Linked DNA regions of Homo sapiens: region 1 is linked to region 2. The links come from fine-mapping of genetic effects on gene expression. A gene starts in region 2. The other region holds a variant in brackets. All regions are shown on one strand. Distances are between the middles of the regions.

Region 1 (5,387 bases), 23 kb after region 2:
ATCAATGTGCAAAAATCACAAGCATTCCTATACACAAATAATAGACAAGCAGAGAGCCAAATCATGAGTGAACTCCCATTCACAGTTGCTACAAAGAGAATAAAACACCTAGGAATACAGCTTACAAGGGACGTGAAGGACCTCTTCAAGGAGAACTACAAACCACTGCTCAAGGAAATAAGAGAGGACACAAACAAATGGAAAAACATTCCATGCTCATGGAGAGGAAGAATCAATATTGTGAAAATGGCCATAACTGTCCAAAGCAATTTATAGATTCAATGCTATTCCCATCAAGCTATCATTGACTTTCTTCATAGAACTAGAAAAAGCTACTTTAAATTTCATATGGAACCAAAAAAGAGCCCATATAGCCAAGATAATCTTAAGCAAAAAGAACAAAGCTGGAGGGATCATGCTACCTGACTTCAAACTATACTTCAAGGCTACAGTAAACAAAACAGCATGGTACTGGTACCAAAAAGACAGATAGACCAATGGAACAGGACAGAGGCCTCAGAAATAACATCACACATCTACAACCATCTGATCTTTGACAAACCTGACAGAAACAAGCAATGGGGAAAGGATTCCCTATTTAATAAACGGTGCTAGGAAAATGGGCTAGCCATATGCAGAAAACAGAAACTGGACCTCTTCTTTACACCTTATATAAAAATTAACTCACGATGGATTAAAGACTTAAACATAAAACCTAAAACCATAAAAACTCTAGAAGAAAACCTAGGCAATACCATTCAGGACATAGGCATGGACTAAGACTTCATGACTAAAACACCAAAAGCAATTGCAACAAAAGCCAAAATTGACAAATGTGATCTAATTAAACTAAAGAGCTTCTGCTCAGCAAAGGAAACTATCATCAGCATGAACAGGTAACCTACAGAATGGGAGAAAATTTTTGCAATCTATCCATCTGACAAAAGCCTAATATCCAGAATCTACAAGGAACTTAAACAAATTTACAAAATAAAACACAAACAACCCCATCAAAAAGTGGGTATAGGATATGATCAGACACTTCTCAAAAGAAAACATTTATGTGGCCAACAAACATATGAAAAAAAGCTCATCATCACTGGTCATTAGAGAAATGCAAATCAAAACCACAATGAGATACCATCTCATGCCAGTTAAAATGGCGATCATTAAAAAGTCTGGAAACAACAGATGCTGGAGAGGATGTGGAGAAATAGGAATGCTTTTACACTGTTGATGGGAGTGTAAATTAGTTCAACCATTGTGGAAGACAGTGTGGTGATTCCTCAAGGATCTAGAACCAGAAGTACCATTTGACCCAGCAATCCTATTACTGGGTATACACCCAAAGGATTATAAATCATTCTAGCACATGTATGTTTGTTGAAACACTATTTACAATAGCAAAGACTTGGAACCAACCCAAATGCCCATCAATGATAGACTGGATTAAAGAAAATGTGGCACATATACTATGCAGCATAAAAAAGAATGAGTTCACATCCTTTGCAGGGACATGGATGAAGCTGGAAACCATCGTCCTCAGCAAACTAACACAGGAACAGAAAACCAACCACCACATGTTCTCACTCATGAGTGGGAGTTGAATAATGAGAACACATGGACACAGGGAGGGGAACATCATACACAGGGGCCAGCCAGAGGGTGGAGGGCAAGGGGAGGGAGGGCATTAGGACAAATACCTAATGCATGCAGGGCTTAAAACCTAGATGACAGGTTGATAGGTGCAGCAAACCACCATGACACATGTATACCTAATGTAACAAACCTGAACATTCTGCACATGTATCCCGGAACTTAAAGTAAAAGTTAAAAAAAAAGATACTCTGTGGACAGAATATGTTTTTAATAAATAATTTCCTTTCAATAAATCCTTTTTTGATTAAATTATTCCCTATATGTTTCATAGAAAAAAATCTAGGATACATTCCAATGAGCAAAGAGCAGTTACTGCTAACTCTATAGGAAGAATTAGTATTTTCTATGTTCTTTTTGCTAGTCTATGTTTTCTGATTTTCCTAATATGAGCATTAACTTTTTTTTAGAGACAGGATCTCACTCTGTCACCTAGGCAAAAGGGCACTGGCATGATTATAGCTCACTGCAGCCTTGAACTACTGGATTCAAGCCATCCTCCTGACTTGACCTCCCAAAGCACTGGGATTATAGGAGTGAGTGGTCACACCCAGAGAGTATTAACATTTTAAAATAAAATATAATTTTTAAAAGGTAATTAAAATACATGTCATCTTGAGTTTCCATTAAACCTTCTGACCTATGACCTTATGTTATAGATACACATTTATTATCAACACTAACATGCCTGTCTTAGTCCATTTGTGTTGCTACAAAGGAATACCTGAGGCTGGGTAATTTTTAAGAAAAGAAATTTATTTGGCTCATAGCTCTACAGGGTGTACAAGAAGCATGGTGCCAGCATCTGCTTCTGGTGAGGGCTTCAGGATTCTTCCACTCGTGGCAAAAGGCAAAGGGGAGCTAGCATGTGCAGACATCACATGGTGAGAGAACAAGCAAGAGAGAGGAGGAGGAGCCAGGCTCTTTACAATAACCAGTTCTCACAGGAACTAAGAGTGAGAATTCACTCACTCCTGTGAGAATGGCACCAAGCCATTCACGAGGGATCCACCCCCATGACTCAAACATCTCAAACCAGCCCCCATGTCCAACACTGGGGATCAAGCTGCAACATAAGATTTAGCGGGGCCAAACAGACCATATCCACCCATGGCAATGCGGACAAAAGGAAAAAATATCTCAGTAAATTTAATTCAAAATGAAAGAAAATAATATTGTAAAGGAAGAGGAAAGGAGGTACTCATTCAATACCAGGGGAAAAACCTGGGAAAAAGGCAATAGAGTAAGTCTGTTTTTATTTATGCCTTTATTTATTTTTACCAATAGTTGATATACCTATATAATATTCACGTGCCACAAAAATATGAGAAGATTACATGTGAATATTGATCTCATGGGTGATAAAGTATACAAAATGTTGATTAACTGAAGCAGAAATCCATTGAGAAATGCTTATAACCATCAGGTATTACATTTACAGATGTTGCCAAGTCAAAGTTGAACATCCACAGTGGGACACTCATCATAAACTCTGTTTAATCTTTAAAAGGAGACAGAGAAATAGCCAAGTACGTAGTAATAAAATCTGCCTAATCATTCTCCTACGATTCTTCTATGCTTGAGTTCGTTTTATAGGAGTCTTATTACATGCACGTTTACATTCCTTCCCGATATACATATTCTCAAGGAACTAAAAAAAAATGAGAGAACCTTCATTAGATTG[G/A]CAAACAAAACTTGCACAGTACAGTCCTCCCCACAACCACTACCATATCTAACTCAAAATTTCACACTCTAATATATATCCTTACACTATGCAAAATCACATGTTAATAATCTGACCATGATAGATGTTGGTCTTTGGAAGGTAGTCACACAGTATCAGAAACACTCAGATGGAATTCACACTTGTTCTGTGCCCAAGTCTGGCCCAGCCCAGCTCAACATAGCCTTGTGCTGCCCATCCCTGCTACTAAGGCTTGGGATCCATCCGTGCAGCAGAGGGAATGAGGCTGTGGGTGATGCATCAAGTAGTTAATCCAGCAGCAGATACTGGAATGTGTAGGTAAGTGCATATGTTCACATAACATATGTGAATGTACACAGGAGGTTAAAAAAAAGAATGAATGTTCACATATAGATTTAAGTAAATAATAACTGTGTATACACACACACACATACACACACATATATTTATATACTGTGTGTGTGTATATGCATATATATCTTATTCCCTGTGATAGAGCCCCTTCTCTCCTTCAGTTGAAATCTTATTGATAAAATAAGAATATAGGATGTAAGAATAAAGGGACAAAATATTGTAGGGTTTTGAGTGACAGGTGTTCTCAGAGGACTCTGTTGTGACCAGGGGCATCATTTCTCTAGTCAATGTGACTGAAAAGAGGACAGCCAGATGTAGGGAGACCCCCTGAAACTATTGCTACGGAATAAAAGATGAAATGCTCCTGATTATTGTAAATACAAAATTGCATGCAGGATTGTGTAAAGACAATGCCAGGTTGGGCTGCCAGAACGAGCCAACAGCGCATGATGTGCTTCCCCCTGCAGACAGCCTATGAACGGACGTGCAGTCAGGGAGGTTGCACATCACCAACATTCCTATCCCAGAAAAGCAGATGTTCATAGCTCTGGGAATGGAATGCGACCCTTGTGGAAAGCCTATAAACGGACACATGGGGGGCGCCTGTCCATATGGATAAGATAGGGCTATAAATGCCCTCATCTTGCCACAGCTCTTCTAGGCCTCTTTAGGGTTAAGGCATACTCCCTTCTGAGAATTTCTGGTCTAACTGGTTGTCTAGCTTCACCTCCTGTTTCCATGGATTGTTTGTAACCAGCTTTTGTGGCAACTGTTACTGTTGATTAATATCTTGCTAATCATAGGTTATGGAAAGATTGTGTTTCTATTTTAAGATTCTGTTAGAAATTATTGACGCACACACTATATTGTAAATTCTTATCTCTGTACACTGTACTTCTACATACAAATGTACTGTACTTCTACATACAAATGTTATGTTAAAGAATTACTTCATCCCCATGTGACCATCTCATCTCACAATCAAATGACCCTAAATCTCTCACTAACCTACCCCCGCCCTCACTAAACTTAATAATAAATGCTGGTATATCCAGTGCATTGTTGGCACCGTGGGACCAGAAGGCGGTGACACCCCTGGACCCAGCTTTCACTATCTTGTGTGTGTCTATTATTTCTCAACCTGCCAATCCGCCTGGGAACAGAGAGCCCCGTTGCATTGCGGGCTGCTGGCCAGATCCTGCAATAGCCAGTGTGTCAGGCATGCTTCCTTTTGCCCAAAACTGAACTAAATGTTCATGAACAGTATGGATTAAATCAATAGGGAACACATCAAAATGAAAAAAAGAAGGGTGTTTTGCCACTAAAAATGTTAAGATACAAAAATGAGCCACAATAATATCAATGGCAAATAAGGATTTATATATACACACACATATACCACAGAAGTACATTTTTACATATCTAATATGGACTCGTAAACACATAATTATGTAATATTAAAGCTATAGATGCATATTTTATATTTTATATATTATATATAAATATAGTTATGCAAACCTTATATACAGATTAGGCAGTTATTTGTATATTAAATATATCTAGCAGACCTAGTATTGATGTTCAAAGCTAAAGGAGTTCCTCCAAACCAGTTCTATAATGGAGTTTCCCAGTCTCAAATCTCCATCTCATGCTCTAGACTTGCCTGATTTAA
Region 2 (5,323 bases):
AGTTACTGGTCTCAGAGGTAGCTGGAGCTTCTGTGTCTGGAAACTGTCCAGAAGGAACATGTTCTCTTGAATTGTCACAGACTTCCCTGGAAGGATTCTGCAATCTCCATGATGCTGCTTGCAGTTTACCAAGGTCTTTGGTCTTAGAAATCAAATGTCCATTGCTTTCTTGAAGATGCTCTAAGAAATCAAAGGAAAAATGTAATAGAGTCAGGTAGTTCATTTAAGAAAAAAGTCAGGCTGAGAAAATAGATTTAGTTACTGAAAGCTTTACTACTAATCAATCTGCAATTCACAAAGTCCCCCTCTATTAAAATCAAGTACTACTTAATTAACCAGTATGCTCCCAACACTGTGCTCTAAGAATACACATGTATATCTGACAACAAAAGGGACATCCAGGAGTATCAGTGTGCCAGCACAAGTGTAAATGAAGTGGTAAGCTGTAGAGGCAGACGTGTAACCCCCCCATGGTCCCCAGTCTCCACAGTCCAGGCCATACTGGCATGCAGCCAAGTTAAGTTGCTTGGCTCCTATCATCAAAGAATGTTGTCCAGGCTGTGGGGCAAAGGGCTGCGTGGCTACGTTACAAACCAGAAGAGTACACTTGTTCTCCCAGGGGAGGCATGCAGGGCAGGGATTGGCTCTCGCAGACCTGCGGGCAGATCAGCAGGAGCTGTCACCTTGGGGAGATACGGAGAACAGTAGTGCTTCCCTGGGCAGGAGTGGAGGGAGAACTGGGGGAAGGGGCTGGTTTCTCCTTGCCAATCCCATATGCGTTAGGAACCTCCCCAACAAAACGGTGTTTTGTATCCCCTTCCATTGTAAGCATTTTTTAAAAAACGTTCTTAAAAATACAAAATCCAAGTCCTCTAAAAATGCAGTTTCCTTCTTGGCCATGCCATTGGTAGTCCAAATAGCTCCCTACAAGATTGAAATCTCCAAATCATACATACAATCAGCACAGCTGTGGTTTTATGTGGTGTGGGGGTGGTGGTGGTATGGGGACAACAGTCTTGTTTCATTTTATCCCTTTTTTTTTTTTTTTTTTGAGATGGAGTCTCGCTCTGTCACCCAGGCTGGAGTGAGTGCAGTGGTACGATTTCGGTTCACTGCAACCTCTGTCTCCCGGGTTCAAGCGATTCTCCTGCTTTAGCCTCCCAAGTAGCTGGGACTACCGGCGCCTACTACCACGCCCAGCTAATTTTTGTACTTTTAGTAGAGACAGGGTTTCACCATATTGGCCAGGCTGGTCTCGAACTCCTGACCTTGTGATTTGCCCGCCTCGGTGATGGTGGGAGTTGGAAGTGAGAATGAACAAATATTATTCTGGATTCCCAACTTTTCAACCTAAAGCATGAGATTGGTCTTCAGAAAAAAGATAAGTGAACTGTCTAGGCATCCCAGACCAATCACAGTAAAGGCACACGGGCAGATTTTCATATGGCTGCACATGAACACCACTGGGCTAAAAATAAAGTTCACAGATGTCATTTTCACCATTAGGCTTCTGTCCAGGCATGGGCAGCTTGCCAAGGGAGGGCACTGGACGGTAAGCTTTTCTGCCAGTGTTCGCTCTCTGCTTAGCAAACGGTCCCTAAAATACAGAAATTTAAACCCAGATGTCAATTCTACTCATCAGGGTTGGGTCCCCTATTTAAGTAGTCCCTTCCTAGGGATGACTATCCGGCCCTATTCTGGGGCAGCGTGGAGGGGACTGCCGACAGTGCTGAAAGGGGTGACCAAGGCACATCCCCAGGGCCTCAGCCACAGCCTTCATGGCCAGAGTCCAACCTGAACTTTGCCTTCCTAAAGAAGCATCCAGATAGCAGGAGGCGCCCGCAGTTCGGGTGTTCCCAAACCCAGCTCTTCATGGGCTGTGCGATGGGAGGATGTCAGACTACCCGGATTGGGACTTAGAAAATGTCCCTGCTTGGGCAGAGATCGAAGAGGCTTGTAGGATCCCCTAAACCTAAGCCCCCCTTTCCAAAGGCCGGGAAGGGGCGCCGCCACTGCAGCCGCCCGCACTGCACCAAGCGCCGCCAAGTGGAGGAGCTCATCCCCGCCGGAGGGGCAGGACCAAGTCCTCAGGCGCGGGCGCTGAGGGACTCGGCAAGGGCGCGGCCCTTGGAGGACCAGACAAGAAACCTGCCTGCGCGTACCAACCAGCCTGGGAAACCGAGGGGCGTGGGGATGGCCCAGTCCCCTTAGGAGAGCCCGTCCGCAGGAATGGGCCCCTAGGAAAGCTCCAGGTGGGTTTGTCTCTTTGCTCCCTTCCTCGATGAACCTCAAAGCTCTGGCAGATGTGCCCTGGAGTCACGGGGGGAAGAATACCTGGTTTGGTGACCAGCTCCTGCCCGGAAGGTCCAGGGCTCAGTCCGCTGCTGCCACTCTGATGGCCTCCCGGAATCGCAGCTCCCCCAAGAGGGGCGTCTTTCTCCTGCTCCGCATCCCCGTCCTTCCCGGTGTCGCCAGGGCCGCCCCGCAGCAGCCAAACGAAAAGTGCTCCGGCCAGACCCCCTCCAACCAGCAGGGCGGACCAGACGGCGCCCATGGCTGAGAGGCCGCGGCCGCAGGAGACTACAGGGACTGGGACCGGGGCTCAGGTCACGCACACAGAGCCACACCTACCCCGCCCGCTCCAGCCTTTTACGGTTTCTGCGCCGGGCACTCCGGCGGAGCCCGGCCCTGAGCGACCAGTACTCAACTTTCCCAGCCCCGCCCCGCTCCCCGCCCCTGGGCTGCAGCCCCGGGCTCCCTCCCGGGGAAGACTCCAGCGCTCTTCTGTCCCTACACTTTCTGTTCCCGGCCTTGCCAGTTGCCAGCGGCCAGGGGCGCAGGGGTCGGCGTTCCACGTGTGTCCCGCGTGAAGAACCCAAGTGCGCACAACTGCCCCGCGCAGCCGGGACCTGCCCCACCGCCCTTCCTTCTTCCGCCTGCTGCCCGCGAGGCCCAGCCCTGCCTCGGCCCGCACCGGGCACCTCGGCGCCTTCTCCCCAGGGAAGCTCAGCAGCAACGCGGTCAGCTAGAGGCCGAGAGCTTCCTGGAACTTAGAGGTGGGAGAGGCCGCGGGCGTCGGTGACGCGCGGGCTGGAGCGCGGGCTAGAGCGGTGGCGCGTTCGGGTGGGATGGGTGGCCCGGAGGACGGCGGGCGCGGTGCGGGGAAACTGGGAGCCCTAGTGGAAGCTCCGCTCCGCCGCCAGCTCAGCGCGCTTAGCCTCCCCAAGCTTCCGCCTCCTCGCCTGTAAAATGGAAGGACTGGACTGAGGACCATCCATCTAAAGATGCCAGTCAGCTCAATCACATCCAGTCTCGTCCTCTTTGGGCGTGTATGGCTGCTGCGAAATGCGCACGCATCTGTATGAACTGGATGTTGTCCATGGACGAGCTCCTACAGATAAGTTTGTTAATAAAAACAGCAGCTCTTTATTAAGCACTGTCTGTATTCCGGATGTTTTAAGTGTGTATTTAATTTAATCCTCACAAGACAACAACCCTGTGCGGTGTTATATATATTTCTTTGTAAATCCTTTCCTCTGCTGATCTGATGACTTTGCACAACAGCTTCAAGCTGATGATCCCCACGTCTATGTCTGCAGCTCACACCTTTCCCTTGGACTCCGACATTCAACTGCTAAAGGCCACAGATACCAAACACCTGCCTTGGAGTAATTGCTATAATTGCTCTCTCTGGTAGGGCAAATTATCTAATGTGCCCCTTGCTCCGAATGGACAGTAGCCCTTAACGGGGTGCAAGGTTCTGCCAGTGGGGTTACTGGAAGGCTGATGCACGCCTTGATGCAGGCCACAACTTCTGTAATCATAAGAGAGGAGGTAGAGGAGAGGTGAGGGCGAAGACTGCCTACTGGGCATCTCCTCGTGGATGTCTAATAGACATCTCAAACCCAACTCATCCAGACCTGAACTCCCCACCTAACTCCCCAAACCTACTACTCTCCCCACCTTCCCCATCTCAGGAAGTGGCAACCACATCCTTCCCATTGCTGCAAAACAAAACACAGCAAGCTCCCACAGGCCACTTTCAAACCACCAGTCAGCGTGATCCTGTTAAAACACCCCAGTTCTCTGCTCAAGACCCTCCAGTTGCTCCAGATCACACGGAAGAACCTTTAAGACCCTACAGGATCTGTTCCCCATGACCACTGTGCACTCATCTCCATCTTGCCACCTTCAACCACACTGGCTTCCTTGCCTAGAGTCATCCTTCCTGCAGACATCCTCTCTCTCTCATCCCCTTTAGGTCTTGGCACAAGTGTCATCTGCATCCCCACTACCCCCTCCCCTGCCCAGCCCTTCCTTGACAATCCCAGTTTTAATTACAATCCTACTCCCTATATCCTTCCCCTGCTCCATTGTTCTCATTAGCACTTAGGGCGTCATTTCTAATACACTCTATAATCTGTGTGTCTGTGGTTTAATTTCTCTTTCCTCCCTTCAGAGTGTAAATGACAGCGGGGATGGTTGTCCTTTGTTCTCTGCTGAATTCTTAGCACCTGTAACCTCTCCGGAGTGAGCGCTTAGAAGTACAGGTTGAATGAATGAATTAAAAGCCCCAGGTAATTTCACCCTAGAGCATTATTGGCATTTTTCTTACGTAGATTCCATATGCATTTTTAGCCCATGTGGATATTACCGTTCCTTGAAATTCATTTTATGTATAATAAAAAGTAACCGTAAAGCTATATTTTTAAGAGAATGAATGTCACTGTATAAAATAAGATTCTTTCAGCCTGGGCAGCATAGCAAAACCCTGTCTCTATGGAAAAATACAAAAATGAGCTGGGCAAGGCAGTGGCGCCTATAGTCCCAGCTACTCAGGAGGCTGAGGATCACTTAAGCCTGGGAGGTGAAGGCTGCAGTGAGCCATGATCATGCCACTGCACTCCAGCCTGGGTGACAGAGGGAGACTGTCTCAAAAAATCTGATAAAAATATAAGATCCCTTGCATGTGCGGTTCACATAGGGTTTGTGCTCCTATGAGAGTCTAATGCCGCTACTGATCTGATAGGAGGTGCAGCTCAGGCTGTAATGTTCACTTGCCAACCACTCACCTCCTTACTGTGCAGCCTGCTTCCTAACAGGCCTCAGACCAAGGTCTGGGGACTCCTGTCTAAGGGATAAAAATCCCAGAGAATCTGTAAAATCCTTCAGATGTAAGCCCCACTATTCACTTATAATACCTAAAAGGCTCTTAATATTTATTGCTGTCATAAATGTCCATTCATTTATTTAAAATAATACCAAAAATTATTTTCTCAACCCATCAGAATTATTTTTACATTGTATCATATTGATCATGCAA

Evidence for each region.
Region 1: its variant is fine-mapped to the expression of STBD1 in nasal epithelium (TOPMed, PIP above 0.99).

Annotation. Positions count from the first base shown.
Region 1 is chr4:76,281,301-76,286,687 of GRCh38, reverse strand. FAM47E (family with sequence similarity 47 member E) reads right to left here. Exons shown (of 8, transcript NM_001136570.3): 8 at 2,905-3,307. The coding sequence ends at 3,230. All of the region lies in intron 6 of FAM47E-STBD1 (FAM47E-STBD1 readthrough), which reads right to left. Among named protein-coding and RNA genes, the nearest start is that of STBD1, 23 kb to the left of the region's middle. The variant G/A (reference allele first, on the strand shown) is at 3,341.
Region 2 is chr4:76,304,001-76,309,323 of GRCh38, reverse strand. STBD1 (starch binding domain 1) reads right to left here and starts at 2,591. Exons shown (of 2, transcript NM_003943.5): 1 at 2,335-2,591; 2 at 1-180. The coding sequence starts at 2,554. FAM47E-STBD1 (FAM47E-STBD1 readthrough) reads right to left here. Exons shown (of 7, transcript NM_001242939.2): 7 at 1-180. The coding sequence ends at 151.